4 separate regions of the Homo sapiens genome follow, and regions 2, 3 and 4 are each linked to region 1. Evidence: fine-mapped expression QTL. A gene starts in region 1. Each other region holds a variant in brackets. All regions are shown on one strand. Distances are between the middles of the regions. Region 1 holds the start of EFEMP2 (EGF containing fibulin extracellular matrix protein 2). Region 2 overlaps LOC124902693. Region 3 overlaps SNX32 (sorting nexin 32). Region 4 overlaps MAP3K11 (mitogen-activated protein kinase kinase kinase 11).

Evidence for each region. PIP is the estimated chance that this variant, and not a neighbour inherited with it, causes the effect. A credible set is the group of variants that fine-mapping cannot tell apart.
Region 2: its variant is the best candidate, but not a certain one, in a credible set for the expression of EFEMP2 in whole blood (TOPMed, PIP 0.88).
Region 3: its variant is the best candidate, but not a certain one, in a credible set for the expression of EFEMP2 in whole blood (TOPMed, PIP 0.89).
Region 4: its variant is the best candidate, but not a certain one, in a credible set for the expression of EFEMP2 in monocytes (Quach 2016, PIP 0.59).

The regions. Positions count from the first base shown.
Region 1 is chr11:65,869,924-65,875,064 of GRCh38, forward strand. EFEMP2 (EGF containing fibulin extracellular matrix protein 2) reads right to left here and starts at 2,877. Exons shown (of 11, transcript NM_016938.5): 1 at 2,760-2,877; 2 at 2,321-2,438; 3 at 2,047-2,095; 4 at 1,234-1,440; 5 at 613-735; 6 at 198-314; 7 at 1-53. The coding sequence starts at 2,431. RefSeq lists a silencer at 3,880-3,939.
Region 2 is chr11:65,808,987-65,814,127 of GRCh38, forward strand. The region is part of intron 3 of LOC124902693; the gene reads right to left. Among named protein-coding and RNA genes, the nearest start is that of OVOL1-AS1, 21 kb to the left of the region's middle. The variant TG/T (reference allele first, on the strand shown) is at 2,557.
Region 3 is chr11:65,849,780-65,854,903 of GRCh38, forward strand. SNX32 (sorting nexin 32) reads left to right here. Exons shown (of 13, transcript NM_152760.3): 3 at 141-251; 4 at 371-492; 5 at 652-775; 6 at 972-1,076; 7 at 1,276-1,381; 8 at 1,549-1,624; 9 at 1,861-1,900; 10 at 2,686-2,772; 11 at 2,851-3,010; 12 at 3,094-3,179; 13 at 3,503-3,922. The coding sequence ends at 3,556. CFL1 (cofilin 1) reads right to left here. Exons shown (of 4, transcript NM_005507.3): 4 at 4,894-5,124. Among named protein-coding and RNA genes, the nearest start is that of CFL1, 5.8 kb to the right of the region's middle. RefSeq lists enhancers at 994-1,153, 1,675-2,536, 2,784-3,003, 3,054-3,103 and a silencer at 1,259-1,553. The variant T/C (reference allele first, on the strand shown) is at 2,003.
Region 4 is chr11:65,598,763-65,603,903 of GRCh38, forward strand. It overlaps MAP3K11 (mitogen-activated protein kinase kinase kinase 11), which reads right to left. Exons shown (of 10, transcript NM_002419.4): 9 at 632-1,006. Among named protein-coding and RNA genes, the nearest start is that of KCNK7, 5.5 kb to the left of the region's middle. The variant A/ACATCT (reference allele first, on the strand shown) is at 2,329.

The sequences.
Region 1 (5,141 bases):
GGAGTTGAAGCAGCGCTGCTCGCATGGGGCCCCCATGTCACACTCGTTCACATCTGGGGGTGCCAGGAAAAACAGGAGGGATGAAAGCGGAGGAGGAGCCCAGAGCCTCCACTCTACCTGGGCTGGTCAAGAAGGGAGCGCCCCCACCTCACACCTCCCTGCCCAGGACCCAGGAGCCTGGCCCAGCCCAGCCTCACCAACACAGGAGCGGTTGTTAGGCCCCAGCTGGAAGCCCGGCTCGCACTGGCAGCGGAAGGAGCCAGGCAGGTTCACGCAGCGGTGCTGGCAGTAGCGGTAGCGGCACTCGTCTATGTCTAGGGATAGAGGCAGGAGAAGGAGGGCGGAGGGCAGAGGGCAGAGGGCAGGTGGGCTCGAGCCGGCTGGGACTCAAGGCTTCACCACCCATAATCCTGTGTCCGAGGAGCTGAATTAGGCAGGGTCAGCCAGGACACCTCCCAAACACTCCCCGCTACAGTCCTCTGTGTCTGATGACGGAGGGTGAGGTGGCAGGGGCCGGGGGTGAAGCCTGGCTTGAATGGGGGTCAGGTGCTAGGGCAAGGGCCAGACCAGGGACACAAAGCCGGGACTACAGAAGCTGCTTCCTGGACTCACCCACACACTCGGGCCCGATCTTGCGGTAACCATCAGGGCAGGTGCACTGATAGGAGCCAGGCAAGTTATGGCAGTCCTGGCTGGGGCGACAGTCGTGCAGGGCCTGGGCACACTCGTCCACATCTGCGAGAGACACCACTCAGCCCCTGCCTGGGATCCCGCACACCACCCAACATGACAGATAGTTCCAACACTTGTATTCGGTTCTCTCAACAGCACGCGTAAGAGTTCACCAGCCTGGAGCCATCAGGAAAGGCACCCCTAACCTCTAAAACCACATGTTGGGGGTTGCACAGGAAATAAGGTCCTGTCCAAACATCCCCAGCAACACTGATTCCTGGACTGTCCTTCCTCCAAGGCCTGTGGCTCCCAGGGGACAGACACTGGAAGGCAGACTTCCTGCAGTGTCTCTGCAGCAACCGAGGGGAGGGGCCCGGAGCTGGCTGGAGCAGTGGCACACAAGCTGGGGCCACCTGCGGCAGGTCCTAAACAACATGAGTGTCTGGATGAGGGTGTGGACATCACCAGTGGCCCTTTTGAGCTGGGGAGGAACATGAGGTCTGAGTTTAAGACGCCTGGTGAGAGGACTGGAAGCCAGGCACCAGAGCAGTCCCCACTCACCCACACAGCTGTCCTGATCGTCGGGCTCATAGCCTGGTGGGCAGGGGTTGGGGTGTTGAGCGGGAGGCACTGGTGGCGGGGGTCCCTCGCCGTGTAGGTCGTTGATGACGGCAGCGGAGCGGGGCAGGCACAAGTAGCCCCCGTAGTGGTTGATGCACTTCATTTCCCCCTTGCAGGCCTCAGGGATGGTCAGACACTCGTTGACATCTGCAGAGAGGGGCCTGCTGGGCACAGCCAGTCTCCTGGGCTGGCCCTGGAGGGAGCGGAGGCAGGAACCCAGCTCGGCCTTCTCTGAGATGTGTGGCCCCAGCAAAGCCTTCCCACTCTGCTCAACAAGCTAAGTCTGCCTGCTCAGGACCCCTCCCCAGGGTTGGCCAAGGCTGGAGATGGGGCAGCTGTTCCCACTGTTGCCCTCATTCTCGGCCTGCAAGTGGGTCTCTATCCCTCCCCACGGCCCTAGCCCTAGCTCAGCCCAAGATGGGGGGCCTCCTTACCCACCCCTGGGGACGCTACCCTCCCAGGTTGTGATGAGACAAAGAGCTGGGACAGGAGAGTGGTTCAGAGAAGGCGTACAGGATCCAGCTCCTCTGAGGGGTAGGGACAAGGTTTCCTGGGTTTCTGGGAGAGGATGAGGCCACCCCTAGCTCAACTGGCCTCCAGAGAGCCAGAGCTGGCCTCTGTGTAGCAGAGCTGGGCATAGAACGGGCTGCTGGGCTCCCACGGCAGTTCTTGGAGGTGGGGCTGTCCCTTGGAAAGCAGCTATCAATCCCTTTCCGGGTTCCTGGGGGTGTTTGGTCCCCCAGGCACACACACCCCGGCAGTGCTGGCTGTCTGGGTCCCACTCATAGCCATCTGTGCATTCCTGGAAGGGAACCAGAAGTGGCCAGTGGTCACCCTAAGATCTCCTCCAACTGGCCAGGCCAAGACTAGGGCCTGAGCCTGGCCACCCTCCGGCCTGCTCCAAACAATGGCCCCCAGCTCTCCACCAGCCAGGGGAGGAAGACTTCCCCGGCAGCAGTCACCCTGGGTCCCGGTCTCTTCCTCCCTACCCTTCCTGTCCCAGGCCAGCGGCCCTCACTGTCCCCACCGTGTAGCTGTCGGGCTCTTCAGAATCCTGAGGAGAAGCTGATCCCAAGAGCAACAGTAGCAGCGCCCAGAGCAGTAGAGACCCGGGTAGGCAGGAGGCGCAGGGGAGCATCCTGGGGCTGCGAGATGGTGGACACGGGTCAGGGGCCTCTGCCCGCGGCACCTCAACTCCCTGTACCGGGAGCCCGAGCCCAGCCCCCGCCACTGCCCGCTCAGGACCGTGCTTGGGCCTCGGGGCCTCCCAGGGCTGGGGGCCGACTCCTCACAGGCCCAGGTCCCAGGCCCGGGTCCCAGGCCCACCCGCCCCGGCCACCCCGCCCCCGCCCCGCGCCCCTGCGGCGAAGGCCGAGGAGCGCGGGCCTCTGTGGGCGCTACGCTGCCGCGGACTCGGCCGAGACTCCGGCCCACGCCCTCCCCCACGGACGGTCACAGCCACTCACTTGGGCCCGCGACACCCCCGCGGCCCGCGGCTCTGGCGGCTCGGCTGGCTCGGGCAATGCCTGCGGGCAGACGGACGGGCGGACGGCACAGCTCCCTGGACGCGCGGCCCCAGGAAGCGCCCCCCGCCCGCCCGCCTGCCGCGGCGCGGCCCACCCCGGCGCCTCCGCCCGCCCTTCGGCGGATTCCTGAGCCAGCGCCAGGGGGAGGGACCCCGACCCCCCGCTTCTCCGCCCCCGGCCAGCCACAGGCCCCTACCCGGTCCCCCGCGGCGCCGCCAGGAGCCGCCTCCCGGCGCCGGACCAGGGTCCCCCAGTGCTCGATCCTGGGGCCCCGACCTTGATGCCAGGCCCCCAGACTCACCCGGGGGCCCCCAGACGCTCACCAAAAATGTCATCCTGCTCACCTAGGTCCTACCTAATCTGCGCCCCCAGAATTTCATCCTGTGCACCCACACCGTAATCCTGGAGCCCCCAGATTCTCATTGTGCGCCTCCCGAGATCGTCCTGGGTACCTAGAGCCCACCTAACCCAGTCCTCCAGACCCTCAATCTGCTCCCTGCAAAATTTTATTCTCTGCCCCAGACCGTCATTGTAAAAGATCCTAAAACTTCATCCAGGGTCCCCAGACCCTCGCCCAGGAACGAGAGGCTCCCAGGAGCAGAACTGTCCTTCTCGCTCCCTCCTGCCCTCCACCCCCAGGACCGTCTTCAGCCGGGTGGTCCTTTCACTACACACGGCCTCCCCCACACCCTCCATCCACAAAGCTACAAGTTTGGGGGCGAGGGCGGCAGTTCCCTTTTGGCACAAAATGAATGGAAGCCCCTGAGAAGGAGGGCAGGGCTGATGTCGGACGTGCGGGATGCCAGAGTCGGGTGCCAAGGCGCCTCCTCGACCTCCTCGCACCAGCGTCCCCCGCCCGGTTTCCGCCTCCGCCCGAAGTGGGGGCGTGTCCTTGGGGCGGAGTATGGGCGGGGCTGGCTCCCAGGAAGGGCGTGGCCTCTGTTTGCCCACGTCTTTGGGCGGGGCCAGGCGGGAAAGCACTGCGTGTCCGGGGATCCCCCGCCTGGGGCCCGCCCTTCCTTTCCCCTTGCCATCCCTGCTTATCCCCGCAGTCGCCCTCCACGTGACCCCGGGGAGGGAGTCTGCCGAGGAGGGGACGTGCTGGTGGGTCCCGCGGCGAGCGCCTGGGGCTCAGGTGAACTGCGCAGTGCCCGCTCCTCGCCACTCTGCCACCACCATCCCTCCCAGCTGCTGGGGCAGAAGGTTAAATAATAGCTCTTTAGGGGCCGGACGCGGTGGCTCAAGCCTGTAATCCCAGCACTTTGAGAGGCCGAGGCAGGTGGATCACCTGAGGTCAGGAGTTCGAGACCAGTCTGGACAACATGGTGAAACCCCGTCTCTACTAAAAATATAAAAATTAGCCAGGCGTGGTGGCGCGTGCCTGTAGTCGCAGCTACTCAGGAGCCTGAGGCAGGAGAATCACCTGAACTCGGGAGGTGGAGGTTGCAGAGAGCCCAGATCACACTGCTGCACTCCATGGGTGACAGAGGGAGACTCCATCTTAAAATAATAATAATAATAATAGGCCCGACGCGGTGGCTCACGCCTGTAACCCCAACACTTTGGGAGGCCAAGGTGGGCAGATCACAAGGTCAGGAGTTCAAGACCAGCCTGGCCAACATGGTGAAACCCTGTCTTTACAAAAACACAAAGAAATTAGCTGGTGTAGTGGCACGTGCCTCTAATCCCAGCTACTCGGGAGTCTGAGGCAGAATAATCTCTTAAACCCGGGAGGCAGTTGTTGCAATGAGCCGAGATTGTGCCATTGCACTCCAGCCTGGGCGACAGAGCGAGACTCCATCTCAAAAATAGTAATAATAATAATAGCTCTTTAAAACGAGAAAGACAGTAACAAGTGTTGGCAAAGATACGGAGAAACTGGAGCCCTCATGCACTGTTGGTGGACAATGGTCTGGCAGTTCCTCAAAATGTTATCACATGACCTGACAATTTCACTCCTAGGTATACATACCTAGGATAATTGAAAAGATATGTACACACACACAAATCTGTACGCAGCGTTTATAGCTGCACTATATATAAGAGCCAAATGCAGAAACAACACAAAAGCCGTCAACTGATGAATAACAAGATGCAGTACATCCACACAGTCGAACATTATTCAGCCATAAAAACTAATGAAGTACTGATGCATGCCACAATATAGGTGAATTCTTTTTTTTTTTTTTTTTTTTAATTGAGACGGAGTCTTGCTCTGTCGCCCAGGCTGGAGTGCAGTGGCGCCATCTCGGCTCACTGCCAGCTCCGCTTCCTGGGTTCACGCCATTCTCCTGCCTCAGCCTCCTGAGTAGCTGGGACTAC
Region 2 (5,141 bases), 61 kb before region 1:
TTACAATCTTTTCAAACAGCTTTTCTCCCCATACTCCTGCCAGCCCTCCTCCCCTGCCCTCCCTCCGAAGGAGCCCTTGGATTTATCCACACCTGCTGGTGCCAACATGCCCCAGACTGAACGCGCCACTCCAGGTGTGGTTTTGCCTGGTGAATGGAGAGGCACGGGGCGGCTCTGTGTCCAGAGGTGGGAGAGGCCGTCCAGGGCCAGCCTTGCACCTGGGTTCAGCCAGCGCAGCTGCCCCCAACCATGCCAGGCCGCTCTGTTGATCCCCGCTATCGAGCGGAGCGTCAGGACAGGAGCTTTTGCTGTCTCCTTCCTGCCTCAGAACCCCACCCACTATGTTTTTTCTCATCTGAATCTCAGTTCGAAATCTCCAGCCCAAGGGGTTTCCCAACACCTCCTAGTTTTGAATCAACCTGCTGATGCCAGCATTCCCAGATGAGGAATAGAGATGTGAGGTGGGACCTGGCCTGGCACTGCGTGGTGAAGACACTCCTGTACCCGCAACGGTCATCCAACTGGTGGCATCTGGACAAACAAACCCAGTCCCCTCCTTAGCTTCCATGAAGGAAAAAAACAAGTGGGTACAAGCTGAGGACACGGCTGGGAGTGGAACTGTAGGAACAAGGACTGGCCAGATGGCGACACCAAGGCGGCCATGCTCCTACCCTGAAGCCGCAGCTGCAGGTCTGGTCTGCACCAGGTGGTCCTCTCCGGCAACCAAAGAATTCTCTGCCCCCAACAGTGCCTCGGTGGAAACCATGCCCAGTCTCTCTCGGGGTCACCCCACAGGAATATGCCTTTTAGTCCCCCACCTATGGCTTCATGGGGAAGACTTCTGGCAGCAGAGGCCCGGGCATGGCAGCAGGAAACAGAGAACTGGGTCAGTCTTCTTCTTTGTCCTACTGTGGCCTCGGGGTCTGGTCATTCTCCGAATGGGGCTGAAGGACAGCAATAGGGCCAGAACGGCAATCTGGGTCTGTGCATCATGTTCTAGCCAACAAAACATCCCACCTTGGATTTTATTTTTTAAATCTATTCAAAGCTTCGGTTCCGCATCCAATTCCCAGAGAGGCCATCCCCTTGTCCAAATGGGCAGAGTGGCATGCCAGCACTGAGCCACCTCTGGAGGGGGCTGGCCACCTCTGGATGGGTCGGCACCCTCTCACAGGGGTGAACACTGCAGACTGGAACTGAGCTTCTCTCTGCTCCTCTGATTTGAGGAGAGAGCACACCTGATACCACAGCAAGCACTTGTTCTTGGCACTTGGTGTCACTCTTGCTTCATCTTGGCTCAGCTTAAACCCTTCAACTGAATGGTGGCGATCACCACAGAGGAGAACTCTCTTCTTCCCCCTCCGTGCCACATGCACACACATGCACACTCACACACACGCACACAATTGTACACACATGCACACTCACATACGTGCACAATTATACACACACGCAATCACACACACATGCACTCACATGCACACACGTAGACACACGCACAATTGCACACACATGCACACGTGCACTCACGCGTACACACTCGCACACACATGCACACTCGCACACACGTTGAGACGTGCACTCACGTATACACTCCCACACACGTTCAGACGTGCACTCACGTGCACACTCGCAAACACGCACACTCACACATGCACACTCACACACATGCACACTCACATGCCCGCCAGGGCAGGAGCCTGGCTCTCCAGGAGGCAGGGCAAGTGTCCAGACAGAAGGATGAGAGCCATGTTGTGGCACAGGAGGGCCCCATGGTGGATGATGGGGAGGAAGGGCCATGTGGACAGGCAGGGGTGGGGTTGGGAGGGGCTCCTCATCTTTCCTGAGCAGGGCCCGGGTGGAACCAAGTCTCCTGGAATTGTTCATTGTTGACTTCACCAACATATTCTTAAAACTTGAAATTGCTCAGAAGATAATCTAACAGCACAAACATGCACACATAAACAGTAAGAGTCCCTTGGCATCAAACTGGCAAACTGTGGTGGCAGAAACACAGGAAGGATCCACTCCCGGTGTGAGGCTTGCTGTCCCTCCCTCTTCAATGCGCTGGCTACCAAGCCTTTGCCAATCCCCAGTGCAGCAGTTCACAGACTTTTTACTGCTAAGAACGGCTTTTGGCAACCCCAAAAATGTGATGTGCCCTTTCGGTGGGTAGAATTAATTGGCGTAATAGAACGTGTCCTCCTCTCAGGCCTCAGCACTGCTGCTGCATCTTCGCAGCCTCTCTCAGCCTCGGTTCTGCCACCTTTCCTCACTCATACAACAACAGGCTCCTCCTATCGAGGAGGTAATGAGCTCCCACTGGACTTTGGGGTCCTCTAGAGTCACCTGCAAACTCCACTCCTCCCTCCCAACGTCGTCTCTAGAAGATTCCTTTGTCCTCGAGGCTCTCCTTTCAGTGAAGGACCCTCATGAGGACACAGTGCCTCCTCTGGGACACACAGCCATAATACTCTTGTCATAAGAAATCCAACTCCTTGACCGGGCTTGGTGGCTCACGCCTGTAATCCCAGCACTTTGGGAGGCCAAGGCAGG[TG/T]GATCACCTGAGGTCAAGAGTTCGAGACCAGCCTGACCAACATGGTGAAACCCCATCTCTACTAAAAATACAAAAATTAGCTGGGCGTGGTGGTGCGTGCCTGTAATCCCAGCTACTCGGGCGGCTGAGGCAGAAGAATCACTTGAACCCGGGAGGTGGAGGTTGCAGTGAGCAGAGATCATACCACTGCCCTCCAGCCTGGGCGACAGAGCAAGACTCTGTCGAAAAAGAAAAAGAAAAAAGAAAAGAAAAGAAAGAAATCCAACTCCTCTGCTACCCATGAGGGAAGGTGGCTCAGGATGAAAGGGAAGTTTGACAATCCCTAAATATCACAGGCTTAAGAAGAGCCATTACCCAAGAAGTCGTGTGGAAAGAGCTGCCGGCCTCAGCCACAGCTGTCCTCTACCCACACTGCCGCCTGCCGCAGGCCACAGCACCGTCAGCCGAAAAAGCCCACTGATATCTGGGTTACAGGGCTTGAGGCTGCCTTGATTTCTGGCTAACAGCTGGGCCGTCCTCGGCAAGAGCTCTCCTGGGAACGGGTTGGGGAGATTCCCCGTGCCCTGTCATTCTGATGTCTCCCTGCACAAGGGAGCGGGTTAACCATGTCCTTGCCACCTCATCTTCGAAAACAACTCATAAAAGCGCATCAGAGGAAACAGTCTTTTCATCCCACCTATCATTAGTTCCCAGAACAGGGGCTGGAAGTAGGCAGCCTCCCTGGGAGTTTGCGGGATGAGGCAACACCGGCGCCTGAGCTACCATTTAGCCTATTTCTAGAGATAAGCCTGTTGATGTCAAAGTAAGGAATGACCAACTCCAGCCAACAGCGCCCTGTGGGACTGGGTCTGTGACATCTCCTTTCTCCCAGGCACCATCCCCAGGGCAGGAGACAGGAACCCTAGATCGTGGGGGTTTGTGAACTGACCTAGGTAAATAATAACAAGTTGGGCTGCACTCTCCTTGAGGTAATTCAAAGTACTTTATCACCATTACCTCACTGATCTTAACTAACATCCAAGGAAGGAAGGAAAGAAAAAAGGCAGAAGCTTTCTCATTTCCTAAAACAAAAGTGAATGGGGGCTGGGTGCGGTGGCTCACACCTGCGATCCCAGCACTTTGGGAGGCCAAGGCAGGTGGATCAGCTGACGTCAGGAGTTCGACACCAGCCTGACCAATATGATGAAATCCCGTCTCTGCTAAAAATACGAAAACTTAGTCGGGTGTGGTGGTGGGCACATGTAATTCCAGCTACCCAGGAGGCTGAGACAGGAGAATCGCTTGAACCTGGGAAGCAGAGGTTGCATTGAGCCAAGATCTCACCACTGCACTCCAGCCTGGGCAACAGAGCAAGACTCCATCTCAAAAAAAAAAAAAAAAAAAAAAAAGTGAATGGGGAGTGGGAGCTTTTAGGTGAACCAGCTCCTATTCACCTATGGTCAGTGAAGAATAAGTACCTCAAATATACACAATAACACTAATGGGGATGGGGGAGGGCATACAAATGAACTCCAAAGCCCTGACTGTGGCCCATAGCCAGAGAAAACAAAAAAGATTCCTGATTTGGGGAGAGGAGTCCTCAACTGGGAGTTTGACAGTTCAGACTGATTTCAAAAGACAGGCTGAATTTTACCCCTCTGTGCTAGAAAGGGTATCGAACCATAAATTCCCCCTGCCCTGACTTCACCAAACTTTGTAAATAACAGAGACGCGCACCCGAGTAATTAGAAGAAAAAGCTAAGTGGCTTGTCAGCTAAGTGGCTTGAGTAGGCATAGGTGTGGCTGGAAGCATTCTGTGTATTTTCTCTACAGCCAAATGTGTAAACGGTCAGAAATACTAGTTTAATGAGCTTATAAATTTGGAGTGACTCTTTACATCTGACAGTGAGGTCTGGGGTTCAACTATTTCACCTCTGAAATCAAAGAGGCTGTGATGGGGTATTCATCTCTTACCAATTCTTTTTTTTTTTTTTTCTTTTTTTGAGATGGAGTTTCGCTCTTGTTGCCCAGGCTGGACTGCAGTGGCGCAATCTCAGCTCACTGCAATCTGTCTCCCGGGTTCAAGCAATTCTCCTGCCTCCGCCTCCTGAGTAGCTAGGATTACAGGCGCCCACCACAACGCCCGGCTAATTTTGTGTATTTTTAGTAGAGACGGGGTTTCATCATGTTGGCTAGTCTGGTCTTGAATTCCTGACCTCAGGTGATCCACCCACCTCGGCCTCCCAAAGTGCTGGGATTACAGGTGTGAGCCACCACGCCCGGCCCATCTCTGACCAATTCTTCCAGAATGTTCCACAGGTTTCTTCTTCACACTTTATGATTCTATTTTACTGACCCAAACAATTCGCCCTCCAATGTTTCGTGGAGGGGATAACAACTCTGGGTATTTGAAGATGTTTTCTGACATCTTATCTGTTTCCTTCCCTCCTTGGTCTGCGCTGGGCTACCTGAAATGCCTCCTACACGCGCGCTTCCCTTATGAACATTCATTAGATGGGTACTTGTCCTGCTTAACTCCTACAAATTCACAAGTTCTCTAATGCTCAAATTCAAAGCACTTGCATCTCTAGGTAATCACTGTTTG
Region 3 (5,124 bases), 20 kb before region 1:
AAATGAAATCATGCACACCTGAGCTCTAACTTTGTCCTCCCTGGGATGTGGGATGAGGGGGGCCCAAAAGTGCATGCCCAGACTTGCTGAGGCAGGGCTTGGGGCAGAGAGAGGACCTCAGTTGGCCTTCCCGCTTCCAGAGCTGCCTCCCTCACTTCGCCCAGACCGAGTTCTCAGTCGTGCGGCAGCACGAGGAGTTCATCTGGCTGCATGATGCCTACGTGGAGAATGAGGAGTACGCCGGCCTCATCGTGAGGAGGGGCTGGGCAGGGGCTGGGAGGGACAGGCAGAGCACTTGGGTGAGGACCAAAGGCTGTGATGGCCGTCTCGGCAGTGAGAGGCCTCCCAGCTCCGTCCCTCCTTTGAGCAGATCCCCCCAGCCCCTCCGAGGCCAGACTTTGAGGCTTCGAGGGAAAAGCTACAGAAATTGGGCGAGGGGGACAGCTCTGTCACTCGGGAAGAGTTTGCCAAGATGAAGCAGGAGCTGGAAGCGTGAGTGCCCCCTCCTTTCCCTGCCATCCCCAGAGTCCAGATGTCTTCCCCAGCTATCTCCCCATGAATGTTTAGCAACCCTGACCTCTGACCCCAGAAAGGGGGCAGGCAGGATGATGGGGGCTGAGGAGGGCCGGTGAGCTGCTGCCACTCTCGCAGGGAGTACCTGGCCATCTTTAAGAAGACAGTTGCGATGCACGAAGTCTTTCTGCAGCGCCTGGCGGCCCACCCCACCCTGCGTCGAGACCACAACTTCTTTGTGTTTTTGGAATATGGACAGGATGTGAGCTGGGCCGAATCCCTGGGGTCACCCTTGGGCCAGGAGTCTACCTTGGGTGGGGAGGCACCCAGGGGTGGCAGGGCTGGAGAAGGGGCCCAAGTGGGCCCAATCCTGTGTCACAGCTCCGTGAGTGGCTTGCAACTTGGGGTGGGAGGTGAGAACGCCCACCCCAGCATCATACCCTCCCTGTGTGCCTCAGCTGAGTGTCCGGGGGAAGAACAGGAAGGAGCTCCTCGGAGGGTTTCTGAGGAATATTGTGAAGTCCGCGGATGAAGCCCTCATCACGGGCATGTCAGGGCTCAAGGTAACCCCTGGTGCTCCTCTCCGGATTCAACCCAGCACCTCAAGTCCACAGCACAGATTGAGGCCCAGGCTGGGTGTGGGAAGGAAGCCACTGGTGGGGCCTGGCCTGGTTTGGAAGGAGATTTTGCCAACCCTGGGTGCCTGTGTTGTCAAGCCCCGTGGTGACCCAGTGTAAATGGGGTCCTGCCTGGCTCCCTTAGGAGGTGGATGACTTCTTTGAGCATGAGAGGACCTTCCTGTTGGAGTATCACACCCGTATCCGAGATGCCTGCCTGCGGGCCGACCGCGTCATGCGCGCCCACAAGTGTACGCAGGGCCCAAGGGGTCCTGGATCCCCCTGCCCCTCTCCCCAGCGGTTCAACTCCTTGGGGGAGAGAAGAGAGCAGGGCGTGCCTTGTTGTTTGTCTGTGGCCACAAGCACCAAGGCTTGACATGCAGATGTAGGGGCTCTGATGGGGGCTGTTCCCCAACAGGCCTGGCAGACGATTATATCCCTATCTCAGCTGCGCTGAGCAGTCTGGGAACACAGGAAGTCAACCAGCTAAGGACGTGAGGACTCCCCCCACCCCTACCCTCTCCCTGTGCCTGTAATACCATGTCTTCCCATGAGGGGTCACTCTGTAGATGTCTACTGTCAGCTCTAGGTGGGAGGTGTAGGCTCTCCTGTTGGGGGATGGTGTTGGGAAGGAAAGGGGAGAGGGAGATTCCCAAGGAGAGGCTGAGACAGAGAGGCTTTGAGCTGTTCCTCAGCCCCCTACCCTAACTCCCTCCCTACTGCTTCCTAGGAGCTTCCTCAAATTGGCAGAGCTCTTTGAACGGCTGAGGGTGAGTACTGCCTTCTGTGCTCAAAGGCTTTCCTGGTGAGCTTTGCAGGGAAGATGAGTCCTGGCAGAGGGAAGAGCTCCAGGATCATCTTGGGTTCAGTGA[T/C]AACTTGGGCCCAGTGGCAAGTTGGGCTTACACTCCAGACTAGTTTAACAAAAGGTGGGGTGAAGACAAGGATCCAGCTTCGTGTGTGTGTTGGGGGGTGCAGGGGCATGCACATGTATGCACGTGTGCAGCAGCGGAGGGTTGGGAGGCACAAGGGTGTGCCCAAACCTCTGGCAGGCTGCACCCAGCTGCCAGCACACTGCCCGGGCACACATGTTCCCCACTCTTCCCTAAGAAAGTCACTGGAGTGTTGCCATCTTCCTAAAATGTCTATTGGACCGCATCTCTTCCCTGCTCAAGGCCCTTCAGAGACCCTGCCCCTTCTGGAAGCTCCTAAAGTCCTGAGCTTCCACTTTCAGCCTCTTGTGCTCCAGCCACTGCCTCCCTCCCCTGCTTTGCCCAAGTGCCCTCCCTGAACTAAAGTTTCCCTGAACACATAGCCGGGCTTGCACAGCTGCCAAGCCCTCAGCGCCCTCTGTCCAGCTCTTACTCAGTCCCCGAGATCCAGACTAGATCCCACTTCCTCTGTGAAGCCTTCCCTGGCCTGCACCCCTCAACACCAGACCTGACCTGGAACAGTTACCTAAGGCTTCTTTGCTGGATATTTAGATGAAGAGGTGCCTCCCACCCCTTAGCTGCCCCTCTGACAAGCTCCCTTCCCAGTGCCCACCTTTCTGATGCAGAAGCTGGAGGGCCGGGTGGCTTCCGATGAGGACCTGAAGCTGTCAGACATGCTGAGGTACTACATGCGTGACTCACAGGCAGCCAAGGTGAGAGGCAGCCCCAGCGCAGCGCTCAGGCCCGGATGCCAGGACAGGGCAGCAGTGACCCTGTGCCCATGGTCCTAGGACCTGCTGTACCGGCGGCTGCGGGCACTGGCCGACTACGAGAATGCCAACAAGGCGCTGGACAAGGCGCGCACCAGGAACCGGGAGGTGCGGCCCGCCGAGAGCCACCAGCAGCTGTGCTGCCAACGCTTCGAGCGCCTCTCCGACTCCGCCAAGCAAGGTGAGCCCGCAGCCCCCAGCCCCAGCCTGGGGCCACATGCCCTGCCCTGCCCGGATCCCCATGCCTCTTCCCCTCCTCTCCAGAGCTCATGGACTTCAAGTCCCGCCGGGTCTCCTCTTTTCGAAAGAATCTCATTGAGCTGGCAGAGCTGGAGCTCAAACACGCCAAGGTGAGCCCTCCCACCTCACTGGGCCCTTGTGAAGCCTCCCACCTCCCACCTCCCTCCCTCCCCCAGGCACCAGGGTGTGCGTGCATGTGAGGGTGTGCACGCATGTATGCGCGTGTGTGTGCATGAGAGGAGCCCCAGCTAAGGCTTGGGGCCATGCTTCCCTGGCTCAGGACCCGTGCCTTCTGGGTAGGAAGGCCCAATTAACAGCAGCTGTTATTGCAGAGAGCAGGGGTGTGGGGAGCGAGGGAGCATCTAAGGTGCAGAAAGAATGGCAGCCTGACTCAGGGAGCAGGGGACTTCAAGGACCTGTTTCTCCTCTGCAGGCCAGCACCCTGATTCTCCGGAACACCCTTGTTGCCCTAAAGGGGGAGCCTTAGAGTAGCCAGAGCTCAGCCAGACCCTAATCTGGGATCTCCAGTGACCAGGGTATCCCAGACCCCTCTCTCCGGCAAGATGTCTCCTTCCCTAGCAGTGCCACTAGCCACACCCTCACTCTGCCCCACATCCTCTCAGGGAAAGCCCAAACCCCCTATCACCACCACCACAGGTGCCAGGCCCTGCAAGACACAGGGCAGCATGGGCATCATAACTGGCCACAGTCAGCAGAGCCCCAGGGACCCTGACACCTCTCCCCAGGAAGCTGAGGAACAGCCTCTACCCTCACCCATAGCCCTGAAGGAATCATAGCTCACTTGATCCCGGCCTGTTCTCCTTCGCAAATAAAAACCCTGGTTTTGTAGCAAGGAGGCCTGTTGTCCTTACTTCCCTTCCCACAGCTCAAAGGTCCACCAGGCACACTTTCTGCCAAGGCAGTATGATCAGATCCTGGAGACACCAAGGAGGGCACCCCTGCAGCATCCTCAGCCCTCTCTCCAGTGACAGCAGGCTCCCTGTGGGAAGGCGCGACACCCAGAAGCTGGGACCTAGGAACCCCAGAAGTCTTCCAGGTTTGCCCCTACCCCCATAAACCCTAGCACAAAAATGAATCCCAAGTTCTCCACACCTATTTCCTAACCAGAAAAGGGATCTAGCCCTTCCTCCCAGAACCGCTCACAAGTTCCCAGGAGTTATGGAGCCAACTGTAACACCAGGAGGACTCTTCCTCAGTTCAGTTGATAAGGGAAATATAGATGCCACATTACCACTCCCAGTTCACCTCACCCTAGGGCCAGATTTCTTGTATGTCTTTGCCTGCTGGGCAGGAAAAAGCCCAAAGTACAGGCTGGAAACAGCCCTTGACAATGCTGGCAAAAGGCTCAGGGTACCGGCAACACCCTTTTGGTTAAACACAGGGAGGCAGTGCTCAAGACACCGGGGTCTGAAGTCCCGGGCTCCACCTGGCTGGCCCCACCCTGAATGCACTCCAGCCACATCTAGAGGAGGTCAAAGGCTCAACTTGGCCTGACTCACAGCAGCCACTGAACCTGACCCTCATAAACTTGAGTCAGCCATCCAGGGAAGACAGCAGACCAAACAGAACCTTTGAGCTACCTCTGACTTGCCTATCAGCCCACACCTAGAAAGGGACAGAACAGAATATCAGATGGACCTCACTGTCCATCCAGGCAAGGCTACAGAGCACCCAGTTCAGGCATAAATCACTTCCGCTGGAAGACCCCTGTAGCCAGCACCCACTCCTTAAACAGCCAGTCCAGTGTCAATCACAGCACCAACAGAATAATGGTGACCATCAGAAAGGCGTCTCAGCCAGTCATTGGAGCCAGATAAGGGTGTGCAGGGGCTGGTTGGGTGTGGAGTACAGAGGAGAGAGATAGCACCATTATCCCAGTGCACCCCCAATCCTGAAGTCTCCTGTGTCCCAACCTTGAAAAACACATCCCATTAATGAGCCTTTTTATTATTGTCTTTTTTTTTTTTAATCGAAGGTCCCTTACTGGTCCTGCTTCCATGAGTAGCCGTGACCAGGGGAAAAGGGAGAGGAACC
Region 4 (5,141 bases), 270 kb before region 1:
GCTCCGTGGTGCCTCTGTTTTTTGTAATAGTTAGGAGTGAGGCCTCTGCAGCAGGCTGGCCTGGATGTGGATCCCGGCCCTGCCACTTACTAGCTGTGGGAGCTGTGGGTCCCTTAATCTCTGTGCCTTAAATTTCCTCATCTAAAAATGGGCATCCAGGAGCGCTTAGTTCTCTGGTTGTTATGACTAAATGAGACCATCTCGGGAAAGCCTTGCAAACAGTACTTGGCACAAGTAAGGAGCCAGGAGTTTGCTACGATTATGATTACATGTATGCTGTGTCGCCCAGGCTGGAGTCCAGTGTCATGATCACCGCTCACTGCAGCCTCAACCTTTCAAGGCTCACGTGATCCTCCCAGAGTGCTGGGATCACAGGCGTGCACCACTGCCTGGCCCGATTACTTCTTTTATTTCACAGCAGGCATCGCCCCCACCTGCCTGGACCACCTGATAGCTGAACTTAGAACTCTGCTCCCTACATGCGTCTTCAGTACCCCGAATGCCTGGTTCAGGGTCCAGCTGATGACTGTGGTCTCGGCCTTGCCTCCTTGCATGTCCCCACCAGCCACTCCTCCCTCCCTGGGAACCCCCGTCTCCCATATGTGAAGCAGGCCGGCTTCAGGCCACTCACCGCGGGGCTCCTCCTCACGTCGGGGGCTCTTGGCTGACCGCTGGCCCACAGGGATACCCAGGTCCAGCAACAGGGGTGCAGGAGTGGGCGGGGAGTCGGGCGTCTTGAGCGAGAAGCAGATGAGCGGGGAAGGGGGCGGCTCGGTCGGGCAGGGCGCGGGCGTTGGCGTGGGGGGTGTTGTCGGGGACTCCCCGCGCTCGCGTCCTGGGCCTCCCGGCGGCTGCAGGTCGCGGCCAAGGCCCAGCGAGGCGAGCAGGGCGGTGCCGCGCAGCAGCGCCCGCTGGATCAGCTTGGGCGTCCCAGAGCTGCTACCGCGCTCTGCGGGGACAGGCCTCTTGGGCTCCTCGGGCTCCAGGCTAGGCCGCGGGGGGTTACCTGCGGGCAGAGGCGGCACAGGTGAGGGTGTGGCTGGTGCATATTCCGGGTGAGGGCCCAAGACCTCTCCGTGGTCTTGGAACAAGGACTGAGTTCTGCCCTCTACTAGCATCTTCCCTGGTCCCACAGGTCCCATGGCCTCCCCATCACATACCCACATTCTGGCCTTTCACAAGATGGGCACTGGGAGGGGAGGGCAGTGCAGGTGGAGGAAGCGGCAGCAAAGCCCAATGGCAGCCAGCGACCCCAGACCCGAAAGATGGATGGGCAGTCCCAGTGGAGGCAGGCTGGGGCCAGGTCACAGTGGGCCTCTGTGGCCTGCCAGGGGCAACCTCCAGGCCCAGGGGCATGGCAGGTCCCACTGACTGGGACCGGCGCCCTGTGCTCTGTGCCCACCAGCTTCCTGGCTTGGCAGCCCTGCCCCTTCTGCCCACCCACCCCCGCTCCAGCTGTAGCTTATAAGATGCACACAGTCAACTCTAAGGTACATGGCAGCCCTGAGGGCATAAATCCCTGTCTCTATTCTAGAAAGGAGGAAAATGAGGTTCAGAGGGGTCAGTACCTTGCCCAAGGTCACAGCTAATTTACAGAGTATGTATTTGTGCCAGGCCTGAGCTGAATGGCATAGGGGCATTATGTTGTCTGATTCTCATGCCCCAGGGGTTCCAGGCTCAGAGAGGTTGAGGGCTTGTGCGGAGCTGTACAGCCAGTGAAAGGTGGAGCCGGCCTCACCCCAGGCAAGGGCAGTAGAACCTTTGCTCTCCACCATTTCCCAGCCAGACTCTGCCCTAGATTTCAAGACACTAGTGTCCTACCTTCCAGTCTAGGGTTGGCCTGACTCCATTCTAGACCACTTGGGCAGGGATGGGGAACCCCTCATTAAGGACAAGGGACTCTAGGATGGGCTCTCACAAGCCCTGATTTTGTCAGATCCCTCCTTGGCTCTAGAAACTGCTGTGGCTCTCCACTGTCACTAGGAGAAAGTCTGGCCTCCTTGGCTGGTCCTCTGAAGCCCTCCCTGGCCTTGTCCCTCTGCCTTTCCCCTCCTGCCTGGAGTGCAGCAGCAGGTTGGATGTCGGGAGGGAGAAATACAAGGCTGGGAAAAATGAGCTTCTACTATGAACCAGGACTTAGCTCACAGTCCCTTCTGTCAGCCCCAACCCTTACTCAGACTCTCTGCCTCTTACCTCACCCAACTCCCACCCCGGCCACTGCCACTGAAGGGACAAGGGAATCCTTCTAAAATGCAAACCTGTTAAAGACAGGTCTCTGCTTAAAAACTACCCATCACTTCCAGCTTCATTCACTCATTCATTCAATCA[A/ACATCT]CATCTACTGACCCATGTGCCTTGGCCCCTGTCCGCAGCCCCAGTCCTGAGACTCCTCGGCTCTCAACTCTTCTCGGAGTTCAGCCAGGTTGCCTTTTCCTTGGGTATGGTGAGCTGCATGCCTGCGCACACACTATTCACTCTGGGTGGCTGACCTTTCCCACCTTGGCTTTCAGTGACCTCTTATGCACCATCCAAGACCAACTGGGATGTCACTTCCTCTGTGAAGCCCTCCCAGAATCTCCCTGAACCTACACAGTTATTGCTCACGTTATGCCTCATAGAGGTGCTACTGGACTTGTTTATGAGTCTGCCTGCTTCATCATATGAGGTCAGGGCAGTGTTTAACATGTTGATGCCTGGCTCTTAAAATGCAAATCCCTGGGCCAGGCGCGGTGGCTCACATCTGCAATCCCAGCACTTTGGGAGGCCCAGGTGGGATGATCACGAGGTCAGGAGATCGAGACCATCCTGGCTAACACGGTGAAACCCTGTCTCTACTAAAAACACAAAAAATTAGCCAGGCGTGGTGGTGGGCGCCTGTAGTCCCAGATACTCAAGAGGCTGAGGCAGGAGAATGGCATGAACCCAGGAGGCGGAGCTTGCAGTGAGCCAAAATCACACCACTGCACTCCAGCCTGGGCAACAGAGCGAGACTCCGTCTCAAAAAAAAAAAAAAGCAAATTCTTGTTTGATGAAGAATCCATTTTTATAATCCTTGCACCAACCACGAGGTTATCATATCACCCCCACTTCGCAGGTGAAGAACTGATCATTTACAGTGAGTTTAAACAGAAGAGGGGAAATCATGTTTAAAAAAAAGAAAGAGTTGGCCGGGTGCGGTGGCTCACACCTGTAATCCCAGCACTTTGGGAGGCCAAGGTGGGCGGATCACGAGGTCAAGAAATCGAGACCATCCTGGCCAACATGGTGAAACCCTGTCTCTACTAAAAAATACAAAAATTAGCAGGGCATGGTGGCACGCACCTGTAGTCTCAGCTACTTGGGAGGCTGAGGCAGGAGAATCGCTTGAACCCAGGAGGCGGAGGTTACAGTGAGCCGAGATCCCGCCACTGCGCTCCAGCCTGGGTGACAGAGTGAGACTCCATCTCAAAAAAAAAAAAAAAAAAAGCAAGAGAGGCTGGGAGTGGTGGCTCAAGCCTATAATCCCAGCACTTTGGGAGGCCAAGTAGGGCAGATCACTTGAGGTCAGGAGTGCATGACTAGCCTGGCCAACATGGTCAAACCCTGTCTCTACTAAATACAAAAATTAGGCCGGGCATGGTGGTTCACGCTTGTAATCCCAGCACTTTGGGAAGCTGAAGCAGGTGGCTCACTTGAGGTCAGGAGTTCGGGACCAGCCTGGTCAACATGGTGAAACCTCATCTCTACTACAAATACAAACATTAGCCGGGCATTGTGGCACATGCCTGTAATCCCTGCTACTTGGGAGGCTGAGGCAGGAGAATCACTTGAACCTGGGAGGTGGAGGTTGTAGTGAGCCGAGATTGCACCACTGCCCTCCAGCCTGGGCAACAGAATGACACTTCATCTCAAAAAAAAAAAAATTAGCTGGGCATGGTGGCACATGCCTGTAATCCCAGCTACTGGGGAGGCTGAGGGAGAATTGCTTGAACGTGGGAGGTGGAGGCTGAAGTGAGCTGAGGTCGCACCACTGCACTCCAGCCTGGGTGACAGAACAAGACTCCTTCTAAAAAAAAAAAAAGAAAATAGCAAGAGCAAGCTGGGTGTGGTGGCTCACACCTGTAATGCCAGCACTTTGGGAGGCTGGGGTGGGTGGACTACTTAAGCGCAGCCCAGCCTGGGCAACATGGCAAAACCCCATCTCTACAAAAAATATAAAAATTAGCCAAGCATGGCATGCACCTGTAGTCCCTGCTACTCAGGAAGCTGAGGTGGGAGGATCACTTGAGCCTGGGAGGCAGAGTTTGCAGTGAGCCATGATCATGCCATTGCAGTCCAGCCTGGGTAACAGAATGAGACTCTATCTTTAAAAAAATAAAAGACAGAAATGAGACAAAGGGAAGAGAAGATAGGGTCCAGCAGACAAAATGAGAGTGAACAGAAGTTCCTGCAGTCAATGGCCTGAGAAACTGAGGTTCTGAAGGGTAAGGGACTTGGTCAACATAATCCAGCTAGGATTTGAATCTGCCTCTAAGCTTCCTGGCAGCAAGAGTTAGCAACTCTGTTGTTTAGGAGAAAGCTGCGTGACTATTCTTGACCCAAAGATAGATAGATAGAGGCGAAACTGCTTCCGTGAGGTCTCACAGGGAGGACACAGCCACGTAGTTATTGGCTCTAAGGCAACAAGCTTCACAGGGCAGTTGCTATCAGCGTAGCTGAGTGCACCCTGCCAATGTGCCACTCCTTGCAGCCAGCTCTCCAGGGACCAGAACAGCCCACTGGGGACAGGGTGAGGGTGTGTGTGACTCTCCAGTGGTATGGCTTATGCCGGGGACCATCTCACAGGGTCTGGGACCTCTGTGAAGCCCCATTATTTGATTCTTAGCTGGGTTTCGGGGGGTGGCTGTGAGGTCAATGTCATGTACTTTCATGGACCCAGATGATGCGTGGAGTGTGGGATTGGGCTAGGGGAACCAGATGCTCAGCCAGCCACTGAGCTGGGCAGCTGACATCCTTTCAGGGCAAGTGGCAATCCATTTCTTCATCAGCCAGGAAGGGCACTGGTGTTGAGGCCGACATACTTATCAAGAACAGTAACTACCATGGTTTCCAGTGCTTTCATGAAACCTCAGACATGTGGCCTTCTGGCCACACATCTGCAATTTCAT